3 linked regions of the Homo sapiens genome follow. The protein of the gene in region 3 purifies or fractionates together with the protein of the main gene of each other region. This does not show direct contact. Each region holds a gene or a part of one and is shown on either strand. Other genes may lie near its edges.

Region 1 (3,755 bases), on a different chromosome or scaffold from region 3:
AAATAGCACACACCTTTTATATGTCTAATGCCATGAAATGTATTGTCTACAGATAGATATGTTCTATCTTCAGAATGGTCATTTGATAGAATTCTTTTTCTCTCTCTTATATAAAGGGATATACTTTCTAGCCTCAAAGTTCTAAGCTAGATTATGTACCTTTTAATAGCTATGTATCTTTCTATAGCTACCAGGTAGTTTTAATAAATCTGAAGGCTTCCATCATGTCAAGAATTATGAAATTAAACTATGTGGATCTAATTTCCAATGTCCAAAATTTCATCAATTATTTTTTAAAGGAAAAGCTAATAATAAAATCCAATATATAAAGTGCTTATGATATGTCAGACATAACATTTATATTAGGATAAATGGATACAAAGATTTTTCTACAAATTTGATAATAAACTGATAATTTTTTTTTTTTTTTTTTTTTTTTTTTTTTGAGACAGAGTTTCACTCTGTCACCCAGGCTGGAGTACTGTGGCCTGATCATCGCTCACTGCAACCTTCACCTCCTGGGCTCGACCAGTCCTCCCACCTCAACCTCCTGAGTAGCTGGGACTGCTTTTTTTTTTTTTTTTTTTTTTGGAGACAGACTCTCGCTCTGTCACCCAGGCTGGAGTGCAATGGGGCGATCTCAGCCCACTGCAACCTCACCTCCTGGGTTCAAGCAATTCTCCTGCCTCAGCCTCCTGAGTAACTGGGATTACAGGCACACGCCACCACGCCCAGCTAATTTTTGTATCTTTACTAGAGATGGTGTTTCGCTACGTTGGTCAGGCTGGTCTCAATGCTCAGACCTCATGATCTGCCCAGCTGGGCCTCCCAAAGTGCTGGGATTACAGGCAGAAGCCACCATGCCTGGCCTATTTTTTCAAATAATTCTACTGTACACAGAAATACTAAAAGACATAAAAAATATTGTCCTCAATTTCTAAAGTTTTCTTGAATAAATGAAAAACCTTACTGCATTTAACAAACTCTCTAAAATATAGCTAGTCTGACAATGTGTTAGTTGATGATATATTAGTTACTTGAATAAAATGAGTATTTGTGTTATTTAAAAATATCTCAATTTAAGGTTTCTAAGAGATTTTATAATTTCCAAATGCTATGTTATCTTCTGAGCGGATCTGTATAATTTATGAAAAAAGATTTTTCAAATACTTCTAAGGAGAAAGAATTTGACACTGCATTACCCATGCTACCTAGTTTCTATTTGAAGTGGAAAATGTATTTGGACTCTTGATATCACTTTCACAGAATTTGGAGTGGGGAAAGGTAAAACTGGAGGAAGGCTTTATGTGCATTCTTTCATTCTGTCATCTATCCTCTTCAATTATCAAAACTATTTTAGTTGCCTCAGTCTCAGCAATAAAGTGAGAGAAAAAAATAATTTTTAGAGCAGCTTCATACATAATTATAGCTCATTTATTGCCAACAGTCTTAATATGACCATTACAAAAAATGTCTTCATAAAACTACCGCAAGATCACATTCATAAGAATTTAAATATATGAATGACTGATCTACTCAAAAAAACACAGAATAGTACAGGTGTATACCAAATGGAATTTGGCAGATAGCCTTATTTTCCAGTAGTCATTTTCTTAGAGTTTGTGATAGAGAAACATGTTTGTTCCTGACAATATTTTCAAATTTCATATTTCATTTAAAATGTTCTATATATTTTGACTATCAAATATGCAATGTTCAGTTCTTCATTTAATAAACATTGGTTTCTTTATAAACCCCCTTTACCAAATATTACCTCCATTAACGTTCTCTGAATCTCTCTGTCAGCTGAAGTACCCTCAGAAAACCGACGACCACCTAAGATAGTAGATTTGGAAATTTATATGCATTACTCTTTTCCTCTACAACCATCATTTAAGAAAACAGAACATAACAGTCTGTGGCTTAAAACATTAAGATGAAAATTAAAGAGCAAGAATTATGCTGACAAAGTTAGACTTGATTTTGGTGTAACATTTCTCATTTTGTTAAAGTGAAAGGTTATTTATTGAGACGGAGTCTCGCTCTGTCGCCAGGCTGGAGTGCAGTGGTGTGATCTCGGCTCACTGCAACCTACGTCTCCTGGGTTCAAGCGATTCTCGTGCCTCAGCCTCCTCAGTAGCTGGGATTACAGGCATGTGCCACCACATCCAGCTAATTTTTGTATTTTTAGTAGAGACAGGGTTTCACCATGTTGGCCAGATGGTCTCGATCTCCTGACCTGGTGATCTGCCCACCTTGGCCTCTCAAAGTGCTGGGATTACAGGCATGAGCCACCACACCCGGCCATGAAAGGTTATTTATTAAAATTGGTTAAACTAACATCTGATTCATTGTGGTATCTACTTCATACAAGTCACAATTACAGATTAAGAGAGGGAAAAAGGTTCTTTTACATTTAAAAAAAAGTCCTAAAACTTTCAACAAGGGTGTTATTCTTACCAATAGCATCTATTTCATCCATAAAAATGATGCATGGTTGATGATCTCTAGCATAATTAAACATTTCTCTGATCAAACGAGCACTTTCACCAATGTACTTGTCTACAATAGAACTAGATACAACCTGATTAAAGGAAAAACAGTAAGGTAAATATAAGATAATTCAAGTAAAATTAAATTTCAATAAGTACAAAATAATCTTCCCTTTACCTTTAAGAAATTGCAGTCCAGCTGGCTAGCAACGGCTCGTGCCAAGAGTGTTTTTCCCGTACCTAAGAATGACAAAAGAAGTCTTAATTAGATGGTAAGGTAGAAAAAAATTTGTTTTGAGACAGGCAATCACTCTGTCACCTAGGCTGGAGTGTGGCGAGATCACAGCTCACTGCAACCTTGACCTCCCAGACCTAAGCGATTTTCCCACCTCAGCCTCCCAAGTAGCTGGGATGACAGGCATGTGCCATCACGCACAGCTAAGTTTTTTGTTTGTCTGTTTGTTTTTCAGAGACGGGGTCTCTCTGTGTTGCGCAGGCTGGTCTTGAACTCTTGGGCTCAGGTGATCCTGCCACTTCAGCCTCCCAAAGTGCTGGGATTACAGGCAGGAGCCACCGCACCCGGCCTATGTGAAACAAATTTTTAAAATCCTTTTAAGAATATAATCGTTTGGCAAGTAAATTTTCCAAAATGAAAGCTAAATCCTAAATAGAATTTTCATTTAAAATTCCAAAGTACTTGGCCAGGTGTGGTGGCTCACACCTGTAATCCCAGCACTTTGGGAGGCTGAGGCGGGCAGATCACAGGGTCAGGAGATCGAAACACAGTGAAACCCCGTCTCTACTAAAAATACAAAAAATTAGCTGAGCGTGGTGGCACATGCCTGTAGTCCCACCTACTGGGGAGGCTGAGGCAGGAGAATCGCTTGAATCCGGGAGGTGGGGGTTGCAGTGAGCTTATAATCTCGCCACTGCACTCCAGCCTGGGTGACAGAGCAAGACTCTGTCTCAAAAAAAAAAAAAAAAAAAAAATTCCAAAGTACTTCTGCTGTCAACATTAAAATTTTAATCAAAATGTTATAATTTTTAAAATCTATTTTAAATTGACAAATAAATTGTATATTTATGGGTTAAATTATGATACATGTATATATTGAAGAATGATTAAATCAGGCAAATCAACATATCCATCACCTCACATGCTTAGCATTACTTTGTGGTTAGAACATTTAAAATCTACTTTTAGCAATTTTGAAATAGCTAATACATTATTAATTATAGTCACCATGCTATGCAATATGTCAC
Region 2 (3,755 bases), on a different chromosome or scaffold from region 3:
TTTTTAACTCTGTTCCTGTTAGCAGTTTTGTGTTGGAGGCTTCTGCAGTGTCCTGTCCAGGACATGTGGGAGGCAATAAGGAAATCCAGGAACTCATTGCTGTGTTGTTTTTTAAGTCCTGAGGTCCTTAAGTGGTCCACCACCTTCTTTCCATCATTCCAAGTCTTACTATGCTTGTGGTGTCAATGACTTTTCAGTTGTAAACAGAAGGACCTAGGAGCAATGGGACTACTCTTTCTTGGCCAAAACCAGAAGTCATGTCCTTTTTTCAAATGGGGAGGCTAACCCTTTTAATCAATTATCAGTGAAAGCAGCAGCAGCATATATGTAAATAAATATATATATATGTGTGTATATATATGTGTATATATATGTATATATGTGTATATATGTGTATATATGTATATATATGTGTGTATATATGTATATATATGTGTATATATGTATATATATGTGTATATATGTGTATATATGTGTGTATATATATATGTATATATATGTGTGTATATATATATGTGTATATATATGTGTGTATATATATATATGGGTCTTGCTCCACTGCCCAGGCTGGAGTGCAGTGGAGCAATCATGGCTTACTGTAGCCTTGAACTCCAGGGCTCAAGCAATCCTCCCACCTCAGCCTCCTGAGTAGCTGGGATTACAGGCACGAGCCACCATACCTAAATTAAATTTTTTGTACAGACAGAGTCATGCTGTGTCACCCAGGCTGGTCTTAAACTCCTGCGCTCAAGAGATTCTCCTGCCTCAGCCTCCCAAAGTGCTGGAATTACAGGTGTGTACCACTGCACCTGGCCAAGGCAGTGATTTTCAAACTGAATTAGCTTAGGTGTCAACTTTTTTTTCCTCCAAAGTTCTTGTTAAGGTGTCTACTTAATTTTTATTTTTTATTTATTTATTTATTTTTTGAGACGGAGTCTCCTCTGTTGAAGGCTGGAGTGCAGTGGCGTGATCTCGGGTCACTGCAACCTACGCCTCCCAGGTTCGAGCGATTCTCCTGCCTCAGCCTCCTGTTTAGCTGGGATTACAGGCATGTGTCACCACGCCTGGCTATTTTGTATTTTTAGTAAAGACAGGGTTTCATCATGTTAGCTAGGCTGGTCTTGAACTGCTGAGCTCAGGCAATCCACCTGCCTCGGCCTCCCAAAGTGCTGGGATTACAGGTGTGAGCCACCACGCCCGACCTCTTAATTTTTCTTTTTAAAAAAGAGTTTTGAAGACAAAATAAAAAACTTGAACATGATTTCTCTAGCACACTCCACTAAAAATTAAATCCAGTACTTGTTTTTCCATGCCTGTCTTTCACAGCTAGACTTTGATTCATTGGGAAGCTGGGACTCTATTTCTGTTTTTCTAGCACTTGAACATGGCCAGCATGTGGTACCTGTTCAGAACATGTTTGTGAAGGGATGGAGTCATTTATGCAGCTCCATCTTCTCTGCCCTTGTAGTTCCTTTACTCCATCCTCCATCTTAGGGAGTTTTTTTCTCTTGCTAGGTATCCTGGATACAGCCATCGTTGATCGGGGGAGGAATGTGGTGTCTGCTTCTCGAGATGGGACAGCACGACTTTGGGATTGTGGGCGCTCAGCCTGCTTGGGAGTCCTTGCAGATTGTGGTTCTTCTATCAATGGAGTGGCGGTGGGTGCTGCTGACAACTCCATAAACCTTGGCTCCCCTGAGCAGATGCCCAGTAAGTTGATAATGATATGTAGCATTGTTTTATTTTCTTAGGCCCCCTTCAGTGATTGCCTTAGTTTCTCCTTTTCTTCCTCATCCTTTTCTGCTCTGTGCCTGGTATTTCTGTTTTCACCATACGATTAATATTTACTCTGTACCTACTATGTTTCTATTACTTTGGAATCTACAAAGGAAGTATATGTCATAGCACTGCGTTTCAGTAAGTACAATCTAATGTAGAAGATGAGATAAATGCCTATAAAGCAGGGGTGTCCGATCTTTTGGCTTCCCTGGGCCACATTGGAAGACTTGTCTTGGGCCACACATAAAATACACAACATTGATGATAGCTGAGCTAAAAATAAATAAATCTCATAATATTTTAAGAAAGTTTATGAATTTGTGTTGGGCCTCATTCAGAGCCACCCTGGGCTGCAGGTTGGACAAGCTTGCTTTAAAACATTTAGAGAACAGTAACATTTGGCTGAAATAATTAGTGATTCTTTTTATTTATTTTATTCTTTTAGCGATAGAGTCCTGCTGTTTTGCCCAGGCTGGCATTGAACTCCTGGGCTCAAGTGATGCTCCCACCACAGCCTCCCTAATAGCTGGGACTACAGGCCTGCACCACCATGCCTGGCAAATTAGCAAGTCCTAATGCAAATATAATAGGTTTTCAGAGGGACGGAGTGTTCCCGGTTAGTATAGATAGGAAAGATGTCACAAAAGAAGTTGGCTTGAACCTTTAGAGGATAAGTTGAAGTTGAACAGACAGTAATTGTAAGGATAGGACAATGGGAGCTAGGGCAAGGGGTAGGTGTAGGGGCAGTTTGCATTATAGCTTGGACGTGAAACTAAGTGTTATATAAAAAGATATGTTTGACTGGGCTAGAAAGTTGAATTAAGAGGGGTAGTAGTAGGAAATGGGTTGAATAGCTGTGGTGAGAGACTAATAAAGGTCCTAATAAGGCAACTTTCCTTCTTATTTTCCCATAATAATAGTTGCATCTCTGTTCCATAGGACAATGTTTTTTCTACTGTTGTCTTAGCCCCTCACATTTTAAAAAATAGCCCTTATTTTTTAGGGCCATTTTAGGCTCACAGCAAAATTTAGCAGAAAGTACAGGGGACCAGGTGCAGTGGCTCACGCCTGTAATCCCAGCACTTTGGGAGGCCGAGGCGGGCGATTCACAAGGTCAGGAGCTCGAAACCAGTCTGGCCAACATAGTGAAACCCCATCTCTACTAAAAATACAAAAAATTAGTTGGGTGTGGTAGTGTGTGCATGTAATCCCAGCTACTCGGGAGGCTAAGGCAGGAGAATCGTGTGAACCTGGGAGGAGGAAGTTGCAGTGAGCTGAGATCGCTCCATTGCACTCCAGCCCAGGCGACAGTGTGAGACTCTGTCTCAAAAAAAAAAAAAAAAAAAAAAGTACAGGGAGTTCTTATATACCTTTTGCCTTACCCACTCACACATAGCCCTCCTCACTATCAATATCCCCCACCAGAGTGGTACATTTATTACAGCTGATGAACCTACGTGACACATTATTGTCACCCAAAGTTCAGAGTTTACATTAGGGCTTACTCTTGGTGTTATATATCCTATAGGGTCTGACAAGTGTACAGTGACATGTATTTACCATTGCAGTATCATACATAGTAGTTTCTTAGCCCTAATAATCCTCTGTACTCTGTTCAAGCAGTTCTCCTGCCTCTCACCCTCTCGAGTAGCTAGGACTCTAGGCATGCACCACTACACCTAGCTACTTTTTTTTATTTTTGTAGAGACAGGGTCTCACTATGTTGCCCAGGCTGGTGTTGAACTCATGGCCTCAAGTGATTCTCCCATCTTAGCCTCCCAAAGTGCTAGGATTACAAGCATGAGCCACAGCTCCTGGCCCTAAAGTAATTTAAATGAGAATATTTTTTCTTGTTTTCTGTAATTTTTCATTTCCCATTTACTCTTCAACCCATTCTAGGATGGTTTGTGCCCAAGTACTTGACTGAAATGGCTGTTGTTAAAGTCACCAGTGACCTTCCTTTTTTTTTTTTTTTT
Region 3 (3,755 bases):
AAGACTTTGAAGGTGAGAAAACTTCATCATTCATAGATGATGTCTTGTGCACAAATACATTAGTTTGTAGGACACTGGGGACAACAACACAACATACAAAGTAAGAATAAATCCAAGCTGTTTAACCTTCCACCATTCTCTTGAGTATTAAACCCAGGCCACCTTTGGCCACTTGCAGGGGTGTCTTTTCTTCTTTATTCTCAATGTAAATACTTGCTCCTTGGGACACCAGCAGTTTTGCTTCTTCCACTCTCTCCTCATCACAGGCTAAGTGTCTGAAATCAGGGACCACCAGAGACCAATTAATCACTACCAATTCTATGTAATGGTTAGGATTTCTTGCTAGGTAGTCTGAAGTGCATATGATTAAGAAATGGTAACATTGGAAAGTTATTTAATCAGGAAAGAAACATCAGTTTGCATAGGGAGACTGTAAGTTAAAATTCTACAAAAAAAGCCTTGTAATACCAGATCGTAAATCATAATTCTGGTTCTACTTACAATAGAAGAAGGGATCTAAATGCTAGCCTAAGGAACAACTTTCTCATTTTACAGAGATAAGTAGTTGTTTACCTCAAACACTACATGTAATAATTCAGGGTTAGAATTTAGAAAAGCCTCAGTTCATAAACTGTTAATAGTAATTCGTGCAGCTTAAAGTTTGAAAAAGCAGTTTAAAAGATTTTATCTCATTTAGTCCATATATCTATCTTATAAGTTAGCAAAGTATTATTATCATCATTTTACAGTTGAAATGGTGACAGAGGTTAAAGTTCCTACCTATGCTGACATGTCTTGGCAGTAGACTGAGTGGAAGAGGGTAACAACTTTTGCCATGCACTTAAGAGTTTGCCAGGAGGGTATTAGGAGGCACTTTACATGTTGCTTTACTTAAACCTCACAATAATCTAGTGAGGAAGGAATTATTACCCTTATATTACAGATGAGGAAATTAAGATTCAAGGAAGATTAAGTAACTTTTATAAATTGTTTAATACAAGTATTTAATATTGTTAGTAAGTGGTAGAGTCTGAATTGGGTGAACATCATCTAGCTATTCATAAATCCTATGTTCGTCCCAGTACTCTATCTTGTCTGACTCCTAGATTTCCTCTAGGCCATCCTGCCTTTCTATTTATGGAGAAAAGAGGTAGGGCATACAGGTCTTTCTAAACAGGGTCTCTTAGAATGCAGGAAAGATTTTAAAAACTAAGAGTTAAGAAAATAATACTTTTTAAAAGTTGGCTTAAAGTCAAATTGGAAAAGGCTGAACCTCACTCTGGACTAAAAAGAAGACTCACAGAACTTCTGGTTCAAGAAAAAGTCACCATTCAACACAGAAGAAAAGTGGCCAAGTACCGTGGAAAAATATCAAGGTAAAGGCCAGCTTCAGATCATACACATAATTCAATTACAGATGGATTTTAAGAGTTAAATGCAAAACAATAACACTAACCCTCAATCAAAACCAATGAAACGTTAAAATAACCTATAATAAAAGACGGGTGAATATTTAACTAATTTCAGGGTAAGGAAGAGCTTTCTAGTCATGAGGAAAGATGAATGGGCTTGACTACGTAGAAATTTTAAAACTTCTCTTATGTAAAAGAAATTATGAACAAAATGAAAAGATAAACTAGGAAAAATATTTTCAACTAACATTGCAGAAAATTAATATTTTACCATGCCAAATCAAGAGCACTTAAAACCCAGTGAAAATAAATTAATTCCCCAAAAGGAAACAGAGAAAGGGACACAAAAAGTTACAATTAGATAAGAAATGTAATTACCTATGGACATTAAAAAAAGTTCAAATTCACTGATAATAAAAATATAAATTACCTCTATGAAATATCATTTTCACATAACAAAAGGATAATTTAGTGTTGGTGAGGGGGTAATAGGCACTCTTACACTGCTGTTGGGAGGGTAAAATGATACAACTCCTCTGGAAGCAATTTGGCAACATATAGCAAGTCTTAAAATGTGTGTATTTGTTGACGCAGCAATTCCACTTCTAGGAGTCTATAAGAAGGTAATCATCAGAAATGTGGCCAAAAGTTTTCTGTACAAAGTTGGTCAACTATTTTAGAGACAAGGTCTTGCTCTGTTCCCCAGGCTGGAGTGCAGTGGTGTGATCACAGCTCACTGTAACCTGGAGCTCCTGGGTTCAAGCAATCCTCCCACCTCAACCTCCCGAGTAGTTAGTACTACAGGTGCATGCCACCATGCCTAGCTAAGTTTTTAATTTTTTCTAGAGACGGGGGGTCTTGCTGTGTTGCCCAGGCTGGTCTTGAACTCCTGGCCTCAAGTGATCCTCCCGCCTTGGCTTTACAAAGTGCTGGGATTACAGACATGAGCCATTATGCCTGGCTCAATGTACCATTATTTATAATAGTGAAAAACTCATAAAAGTTTAAATATACAGTAATAGAGGAATGATTAAATTATGGCACATCTATACAGAATTTTATATACCCATTAAAAAGGTTTTAAACATATTTAATATATGCTTATACTATGAGGTGAAAAGAACAAGAGCTAAAACTACATACACAGTATGACCCCAATTTTGCTAAAAAATATGTATGTATAAAATATATACATTTGAATATAAAAGACCAGGAGGAAATACACAAGAATGTGATCAGTAGTTATTTCTGAGTGGCAAGATAATAGGCAATTTTTATCTTTATATTTTGTGCAATTTAACATTTTTGCCATTAACACGTATTGCATTTATAAGCAGAATAAAAAAAGAAATGATGTATAAGAATTATTGCAAGAAGGCTAATGTCAGGTAGAATACAAATGACTGCTACTTGTCACTTACAGAGGAGTGTTACCCTCAGTGTCTTGGATGTTTGTGGATGCTTTGTAGTACAGAAGGATATGAATCATCTTCAAGTTACCCTTGGCTGCTGCCCGGTGCATTGCTGTAGCCTCATAATGGTCCTTAGCATCTGGATTAGCCCCGCCTTCCAGTAACATGACAGCGATCTGGAAAGATGGAGAAGAAAGAAGAAAACAATGCAGAAATCTATCTGTGTTTGTATACACGTTTAGAACTCAACAGAAGTAGCCTAGGATGGAACCATACCTCATGCCTGTTTTTCGAAGCTGCATAATGTAAGGGAGTACAGCCATTTTGATTGACAGCATTCACTTGAGCACCTTTTCCCAGAAGGGCTTTTACAATCTCATCCCGGCCAGCAGAAGCCGCAATATGAAGAGGAGACCAACCTGCCTATAAAAGAAGTAGGTAGTAGAAATACCAGGGGAAAAAGGCACAAGGATTAGTGCTAACATTTAGGAAGGGTTAGCAAGGAGCTTTACAAAGGCAAAAAAATATTTGCCTACAAAAAAGGTTCCATTCTTACTCTTCACAAATCTAATCCTAATATAACCATATCATTAGAATAAATCTCTTTATGTAACAAAAAAGTTATTTAGGTCCTCATTATTCAGGCCATGTTCACCAAAAAACAAAAAATCCAACATAATAGAAAGAGTTTATGGTCTTTTAGGGTTCACCATAACAAGCCCTGATCTGTATGTTTATTTTTGTTTTTTTATTTTTAGAGACAAGGTCTCAGTCTGTCACCCAGGATAGAGTACAATGGCTCACTGCAGCCTCAAACTACTAGGCTGGAGCAATCCTCCTACCTCAGCCTCTCCTGTATGTTTACCTTAAATCACAGAGTATGAGTGGCAAACATAACATTGTAAAATAATGCAACCATGAGTCTCATGCT

Evidence for each region.
Region 1: the proteins of PSMD10 (region 3) and PSMC6 purify together in Homo sapiens (co-immunoprecipitation; 7 studies listed by BioGRID and IntAct, with this or other methods). This does not show direct contact.
Region 2: the proteins of PSMD10 (region 3) and PAAF1 purify together in Homo sapiens (co-immunoprecipitation; 7 studies listed by BioGRID and IntAct, with this or other methods). This does not show direct contact.

Annotation. Positions count from the first base shown.
Region 1 is NC_000014.9:52,717,058-52,720,812, reverse strand, and holds part of PSMC6 (26S proteasome regulatory subunit 10B), read right to left. Parts: intron 2,733-3,755; coding exon 2,671-2,732; intron 2,585-2,670; coding exon 2,461-2,584; intron 1,837-2,460; coding exon 1,775-1,836; intron 1-1,774. UniProt on the Homo sapiens protein: Component of the 26S proteasome, a multiprotein complex involved in the ATP-dependent degradation of ubiquitinated proteins.
Region 2 is NC_000011.10:73,907,884-73,911,638, forward strand, and holds part of PAAF1 (proteasomal ATPase-associated factor 1), read left to right. Parts: intron 1-1,515; coding exon 1,516-1,710; intron 1,711-3,755. UniProt on the Homo sapiens protein: Inhibits proteasome 26S assembly and proteolytic activity by impairing the association of the 19S regulatory complex with the 20S core.
Region 3 is NC_000023.11:108,084,853-108,088,607, forward strand, and holds part of PSMD10 (26S proteasome non-ATPase regulatory subunit 10), read right to left. Parts: intron 3,248-3,755; coding exon 3,101-3,247; intron 3,001-3,100; coding exon 2,834-3,000; intron 276-2,833; coding exon 122-275; 3' UTR 1-121. UniProt on the Homo sapiens protein: Acts as a chaperone during the assembly of the 26S proteasome, specifically of the PA700/19S regulatory complex (RC).